Homo sapiens: one gene and its partner. The main gene of each other region encodes a partner of the protein of the gene in region 2 in a complex. Each region holds a gene or a part of one and is shown on either strand. Other genes may lie near its edges. A codon is read from its position in the direction of its gene.

Region 1 (2,387 bases), about 100 Mb from region 2:
GGGAGATTTTGAGTTTTGGGCTTAAAATGACTGAAGAACCACCAGGTGGATCTACGTGTCTCGAGTCCAGAAGTCTGAATACAGATTTACGATTTATGAGCACACAGAAGGTGGATCCAAGGGAGAGATTAAACAGGGCACAGAAGAGTTTTTAAAAATAATATTTTTCGGGAAAAAAACCCCAACAAAACACGATTCTTTCAGCAGAAACCAGAAGATTTTCTCATAGACTCTCCTACAGAGAGCCCTGATAAAGTAATAAACATGCTAACAGTAAGAACCCCAACCAATTTCATAGGGCAGTTTGCGGTAACTACTCCCAGTATGGAGCAGACAGTCCTCTTGCAAAACCCGATTTAGCAAACTTTGCTAGCTCCATGTGGGGCCTCCAAAGGACACAGCTGGGCACTAAATCCTGGCTGAAAACAAAGGCCGATTTAGAGGATCCGTAGAAACGGATGCACAGAATATCCCTCAGTCTTCTCTATGTAGCAGGCCCTCCATATACGCGGGTTCCCCAAGACCGAAAATATTAAACAAATGAATTTCTTTTTTAAAAAAAAGTACAACAAAAGATAGTAAAAATAAAAACAGTATAACAATTACTTACATAGCATTTACACTGGATTAGGTGTTACGAAGTAATTTAGAGACTATTTAAAGTACACGGGAGGATGTGCATAGTTATGTGCAAATACTACGCCACTTTCTATGAGAGACTTGAGCAACCTGGATTTTGGTATCGGCGGGGGCCCTGGACCAATCCCCTCTCAGTTCTACCGAGGGAGAACTGTTTTGTTTCTTCCAGCACGGCTTTGACCGACAGTGTGTTGGGATTCGCTGACGTCCATGAGAAAGCTTGGCAGCATGCTGAGACCAATTTTCCCAGGGCCAGAATTCTCCTGTGTGAGCTAAAATACAGTGGCTCGGTCCAACAAAACAGAGCCTGGAGCCAGGAATTATGGCGAACCTGCTCCCTCCCGTCCTCCCTTGGCGCACAGATCCCTGGCGCCGCCGCTCTTGAGGTCGCCTCTCGCGTGTCGACCTCATCGTCGGAACGGCGCTTCCTGAAGCTTTATATAAGCACGGCTCTGAATCCGCTCGTCGGGATTAAATCCTGCGCTGGCGCGCTCCTGCCAGTCTCTGGCCTCCATTTGCTCTTCCTGAGGCTCCCTCCAGAGACCTTTCCCTTAGCCTCAGTGCAATGCCTTCCGGGCGTCCTCAGACCAGACACAGGCCAAAGCCACTACAGAATCCGGAAGCCCCGGTTGGGATCTGAATTCTCCCGGGGACTGTGGCGTAGCGGTTAAAAAAAAAAAAGAGTGAGAGGGACCTGAGCAGAGTGGAGGAGGAGGGAGAGGAAAACAGAAAAGAAATGACGAAATGTCGAGAGGGCGGGGACAATTGAGAACGCTTCCCGCCGGCGCGCTTTCGGTTTTCAATCTGGTCCGATACTCTTGTATATCAGGGGAAGACGGTGCTCGCCTTGACAGAAGCTGTCTATCGGGCTCCAGCGGTCATGTCCGGCAGAGGAAAGGGCGGAAAAGGCTTAGGCAAAGGGGGCGCTAAGCGCCACCGCAAGGTCTTGAGAGACAACATTCAGGGCATCACCAAGCCTGCCATTCGGCGTCTAGCTCGGCGTGGCGGCGTTAAGCGGATCTCTGGCCTCATTTACGAGGAGACCCGCGGTGTGCTGAAGGTGTTCCTGGAGAATGTGATTCGGGACGCAGTCACCTACACCGAGCACGCCAAGCGCAAGACCGTCACAGCCATGGATGTGGTGTACGCGCTCAAGCGCCAGGGGCGCACCCTGTACGGCTTCGGAGGCTAGGCCGCCGCTCCAGCTTTGCACGTTTCGATCCCAAAGGCCCTTTTTAGGGCCGACCACTTGCTCATCTGAGGAGTTGGACACTTGACTGCGTAAAGTGCAACAGTAACGATGTTGGAAGGTAACTTTGGCAGTGGGGCGACAATCGGATCTGAAGTTAACGGAAAGCTACCGCGGCCCATAGCGCTCACAGCCGTAAAGACTTAAGTCGTTGACCGAAAGCGGCTTTTTCACTTACCTGGGCTTTTTTTTTTTTTTTTTTTTTTTTTAAAGCCTTTATCGGTATGAAAGGTTGAATGCTCTAGGTTTGAGCACTGCTTTCTCGGCTTGCTCTTCTGGTGCAGTATAGGCACACCTAGAGGGCCACGTCAGTCTTTGCGATCACCAAATCTGGTTCTGAGAAATAGGCACTGGCAATTTACACATGCCTTGCTGTGTAATCTCACTATATTTGCTCAGGCAAAGTGGGAGAAGCAGCCTTAGGTTTTCATTCTAGAGATGCCGGCTTTCCCACCTGATCGGCTTAGAGTTCACGATTGACTGTTTTGGGCTTCATTTC
Region 2 (4,765 bases):
AACCAGCAGTGTGTCACCTGGGCAGTTGTTAGAAATGCAGATTCTTCAACCTTACCTCAAACCTTCTGACTCAGAAACTGTAGGGGGTGGAGCTCAAACTGTTATAACCGTTCCTCCAAATGGTTTGCATACAGACTAAAATTTGAGAAACACTGCTTTAATTCATCTTTTTTTCCAACTATACAAGTACTGCCTTAGTTCACCCTCTTTTCTATTTGTCTAGGCTTGTGCTAAGCAAGAATAGAAATAAATTTATCGGCCGGGCGCGGTGGCTCACGCCTGTATTCCCAGCACTTTGGGAGGCCGAGGCAGGTGGATCACGAGGTCAGGAGACGAGACCATCCTGGCTAACACGGTGAAACCCTGTCTCTACTAAAAATACAAAAAAATTAGCCGGGCATGGTGGCCGGTGCACAGGCACCGGCCTGGCACCAGGCCCAGGCTGAGGCAGGAGAATGGCGTGAACCCGGGAGGCGGAGCTTGCAGTGAGCCGGAGATCGTGCCAGGGCACTCCAGCCTGGGCGACAGAGCAAGACTCTGTCTCAAAAAAAAAAAAAAAAAAGAAAAGAAATTTATCACTGATAAATGCTTTACAATGATACTTAATAGTGTTTTTACTGGTTCCTTGCTTTTAATGGTATTCAATTCAGAGTCTTATATTGCAGTCATAGTGTAACTTTTTTTTTTTTTTTTTTTTTGAGACGGAGTCTCGCTGTGATATCTCCCTGACATTGTATTTAAAAAAACCTGTGTGTTATAGAAGGTTATATAGGGAAATAAAAGACCTAGTCCCTTAACCACAGGTAGTTTGAGAGGCTCTGTGCTAGACCATTTGGTCAGAATGACCTCTTAATAAAACTATTCGATATACATGACTGGCTGTGACGGAGTTTGTAGATAAGGATCCAAGACCATTTCAAGATTCTAGGCAAATGGCCCAGATAGCTTACAACCTGTAGCTGAAAGCACTGCCCTTTAAGTTGTTCCTCATCCCTGTGGTTATAGCTGTGAAGTTGCCACTTATTTTCAGCCCTGGATATTTGAGTGAGTAAGAATTAAATGAATTAAATTTGATAATGTAAGTAAGTAAATAATACTTGAGTATTTAATAAATGACAGCTCTTTTATTCCTTTATATTTTTCTGAATTTATTTTATTTTCAGGCTTAATAATTGCCTCCAGTTTTACATTTTTTCCCCTTTAATTTTTTATTACAGAATTGAAGATGTTCCTGCTCCTTCTACATCTGCAGATAAAGTGGAGAGGTAAGATTATTTACATGGTAGTTAGATTCGTATCAGAAACATAAACTAAGAGCAATATAACTTTAAAGTTATTTTTATTTTTTAATTAATTTATTTTTGATAGAGGCAAGGTGTCGCTTTGTTGCTCAGGCCGAAGTGCAGTGTGCAATCAGGGCTCACTACAACCTTGAACTCCTGGGCTCAAGCAATCTTCCCACTTCAACCTCCTGAGTAGCTAGGACTATAGGCACATGCCACTACACTTCGCTCATTTTTAAATTTTTTGGAGAGATGGGGTCTTGCTATGTTGCCAAGGCTGGTCTCAAACTCCTAGCCTCAAGCATTCCTCCCTGCCTAAGCCTTTCAAAGTGTAGGATTATAGGTGTGAACTACCAGGCCCGTCTCACCTCCTCCCCCTGTAACGTTTCCATCTTGATATGGCTATGGTTTTTTGTTTTTCTTTATCTCAGATCTACACCCGTAGTGACTATGTTTCTTAATCAGAGGTGGGCATAATAATTAACTAAAAAGCTTACCCAAAAGGTAGATGGTAGGTTACATCCCTAGAGATTTCTTGTTTCATTTTTTAGAGACAGGGTCTTGCTCTGTTGCCCAAGCTGGAGTTCAGTGATGTTATCATAGCTCACCACCACCTCGAACTCCCGGGCTAAAGGGATTCTTCTGCCTCAGCCTCCTGAGTAGCTGGGACTGTAGGCATGCACCACCACATCTGGCTAATTATTTTATTTATTTTTTAGACTGAGTTTCACTCTTGTCGCCCAGGCTGGAGTGCAGTGGCGCAATCTTGGCTCACTGCAACATCTGCCTCCTGGGTTCAAGCAATTCTGCCTCAGTCTCACAAGTAGCTGGGATTACAGGCGGGTGCCACTACACCCAGCTAATTTTTCTATTTTTAGTAGAGATGGGGTTTCACCATGTTGGCCAGGTTGGTCTTGAACTCCCGACCTCAGGTGATCTGCCCGCCTTGGCCTCCCAAAGTGTTGGGATTACAGGCGTGAGCCACTGTGCCCACCCGAATTATATTTTTCGAAGCGGAGTCTTGCTTTGTTGGCCAGGGTGGTCTCCAACCTGGGCTCAAGCAATCCCCCTGCCTTGGCTTCCCTAAGTGTTGGGATTACCAGCCTGATCTACCATGCCCAGCTGATTTTATTTGTTGAGCTTGAGATAAAATTTGGGTTCATGTGTTATGGAAAAGCTTTCTGATAAGATTGAGAATTATTACTGTTAGAATATCTTACAAATATTTTGTTTGTTTGTTTTTTGAGATGGAGTCTCACTCTGTCACCCAGGCTGGAGTGCAATGGCATGATCTTGGCTCACTGCAACCTCTGCCTCCCGGGTTCAAGCGATTCTCCTGCCTCAGCCTCCCAAGTAGTTGGGATTACAGGCACCCACCACCATGCCCGGCTAATTTTTGTATTTTTAGTAGAGACAGGGTTTCGCCATGTTGGTCAGGCTGGTCTCGAACTCCTGACCTCGGGCGATCTGCCCGTCTTGGCCTCCCAGAGTGCTGGGATTACAGGCGTGAGCCACCACACCCGGCCACAAATACATTTTTTAAGCGTCCATAGGGTTTTATGTTTTTCATGTTTGAAATCCTGTTGTCATCTTGGTTATTTAACCCTTTTCCCATTTGCCCTGAGAATACTTGCTGGTGGTGCTTGGGGCTGCTGCATTTACCCAGTGAAAACTGCCATGAAATAGCTCTCCTTTATTATTATTTTCACATCACTCTAATATATAGATTTTGGATAAAAAGACATCATTCTGTTTATAGCACTCTGTTTTTAGTAATGGTTATTTCCATTTACAAAATAGGGTAATTCTCGATTGCTGTAAATGTCAAATCCTAGAAAACGTAGCATTCCTATGTATGATGTTAACATCATTCTCAAATGGTTGTTGGCCAAAGATTCATTTGATGAATCCAATTTTTATGAAATAGGCGATTCTGATATTAGTTGTGTTTAGAAATAACTCCGGCCAGGCAGGTGGCTCATGTCTGTAATCCCAGCACTTTGGGAGACTGAAGTGGGCTGATCACTTGAGGTCAGGAGTTCAAGACCAGCCTGGCCAACATGGTGAAACCCTCTCTCTACTAAAAATACAAAAATTAGTTGAGCGTGGTGGCGGGCGCCTATAATCCCAGCTACTCGGGAGGCTGAGGCAAGAGAATCACTTGAACCTGGGAGGTGGAGGTTGCATTGAGCCAAGATTGTGCCACTGCACTCCAGCCTGGGTGACAGAGTGAGACTGTCCCCCCCCAAAAAAAAAAAAAAAAAAAACTCCGAGAACAGTTTTATATTTTTATTTTCATGCTGAAAGTCAGATTTGCTTCAGCTTCAAAGAACATGTTTATGTAAAATTAAATGAGTGCTGGCAATGAGCTGTACTTTTTTTTTTTTCTCTTAAACGGGAAAAGGGTTAAAATAAGTCTTATGAAATACTGCTTGGCTGGGTGTGGTAGCTTACACCAGTAATCCCAACACTTTGGGAGGCCAAGCAAGACCTCCATCTCTGAGAGGATCACATGACCCCAGGAGTTCGAGACCAGCCTGGGCAACATAGCAAGACGCCATCTGTACAAAAAAAAAAAATTTTTTTTTTAATTAACTGTTCGTTGTGGCACTTGCGTGTGGTCCCAGATACTGGGGAGGCTGAGGTAGGAGGATTGCGGAAGCCCAGGAAGTCGAGGTGGTGGTGAGCTATGATCCTGCCACTGCACTCTAGTCTGGGTGACAGAGTGAGACCCTGTCTCCAAAAAAAAAAGGAAAGAAACAAAATAGGGCTAGGCGCGGTGGCTCACGCACTTTGGGAGGCTGAGGTGGGTGAATCACCTGAGGTCAGGAGTTCAAGATCAGCCTGGCCAACATGGTGAAACCCCGTCTCTACTAAAAAAGATACAAAAATTAGCCGGTCGTGGTGGCTAGCGCCTGTAATTCCAGCTACTTGGGAGGCTGAGGCAGAAGAATCACTTGAACCCGGGAGGTGGAAGTTGCAGTCAGCCAAGATCACGCTACTGCACTCCATCCTGGGTGACGAGCGAAACTCTCAAAAAAAAAAAACAAACAACAACAAAATTTCTTGTGAGTTAATCTGGTATTTGGGTGGTATGAATACTGAATACTGTTTAGGGTTGATCCTAAACACAATACTTTCAAGGGGGTTACTCATAGGATGTACCATAGTATTTAAGTTTCTGGACTGACTAAATGTAGCTAGGCTATCCAAAACACAGTGCTTGATATGTAATCATCAGTATTAAACTTCACTGCCCAGGTTGGAGTACAGTGGAGCGATCGTGGCTCACTGCAGCCTTGACCTTCCCTGGGCTCAGGTGATCCTCCTGCCTTAGACTCCTGGGTAGCTAGGATCACAGATGTGTGCCACTATGCCTGGCTAATTTTTGTATTTTGTTTTTAGAGATGAGGTTTCGTCACGTTGCCCAGGCTGGGGCTCAAGCCATCTTCTCACCTCAGCCACCTGAAGTGCTGGGATTA

The links.
Region 1: the proteins of NASP (region 2) and H4C15 are in contact, whole or in part, in a crystal structure (PDB 7V6Q), measured with the Homo sapiens proteins. Residues at the interface, in NP_002473.2 of Homo sapiens: Glu563, Gln566, Ser567, Leu569, Asn570, Glu573, His587, Leu590, Tyr594, Gln599, Glu602, Gln606, Lys609; in NP_001029249.1 of Homo sapiens: Arg96 (codon at 1,805), Thr97 (codon at 1,808), Leu98 (codon at 1,811), Tyr99 (codon at 1,814), Gly100 (codon at 1,817), Gly102 (codon at 1,823), Gly103 (codon at 1,826).

What each region holds. Positions count from the first base shown.
Region 1 is NC_000001.11:149,860,264-149,862,650, reverse strand, and holds H4C15 (histone H4), read left to right. Parts: upstream 1-1,491; 5' UTR 1,492-1,519; coding exon 1,520-1,831; 3' UTR 1,832-1,887; downstream 1,888-2,387. UniProt on the Homo sapiens protein: Core component of nucleosome. Nucleosomes wrap and compact DNA into chromatin, limiting DNA accessibility to the cellular machineries which require DNA as a template.
Region 2 is NC_000001.11:45,590,006-45,594,770, forward strand, and holds part of NASP (nuclear autoantigenic sperm protein), read left to right. Parts: intron 1-1,217; coding exon 1,218-1,265; intron 1,266-4,765. UniProt on the Homo sapiens protein: Component of the histone chaperone network. Binds and stabilizes histone H3-H4 not bound to chromatin to maintain a soluble reservoir and modulate degradation by chaperone-mediated autophagy.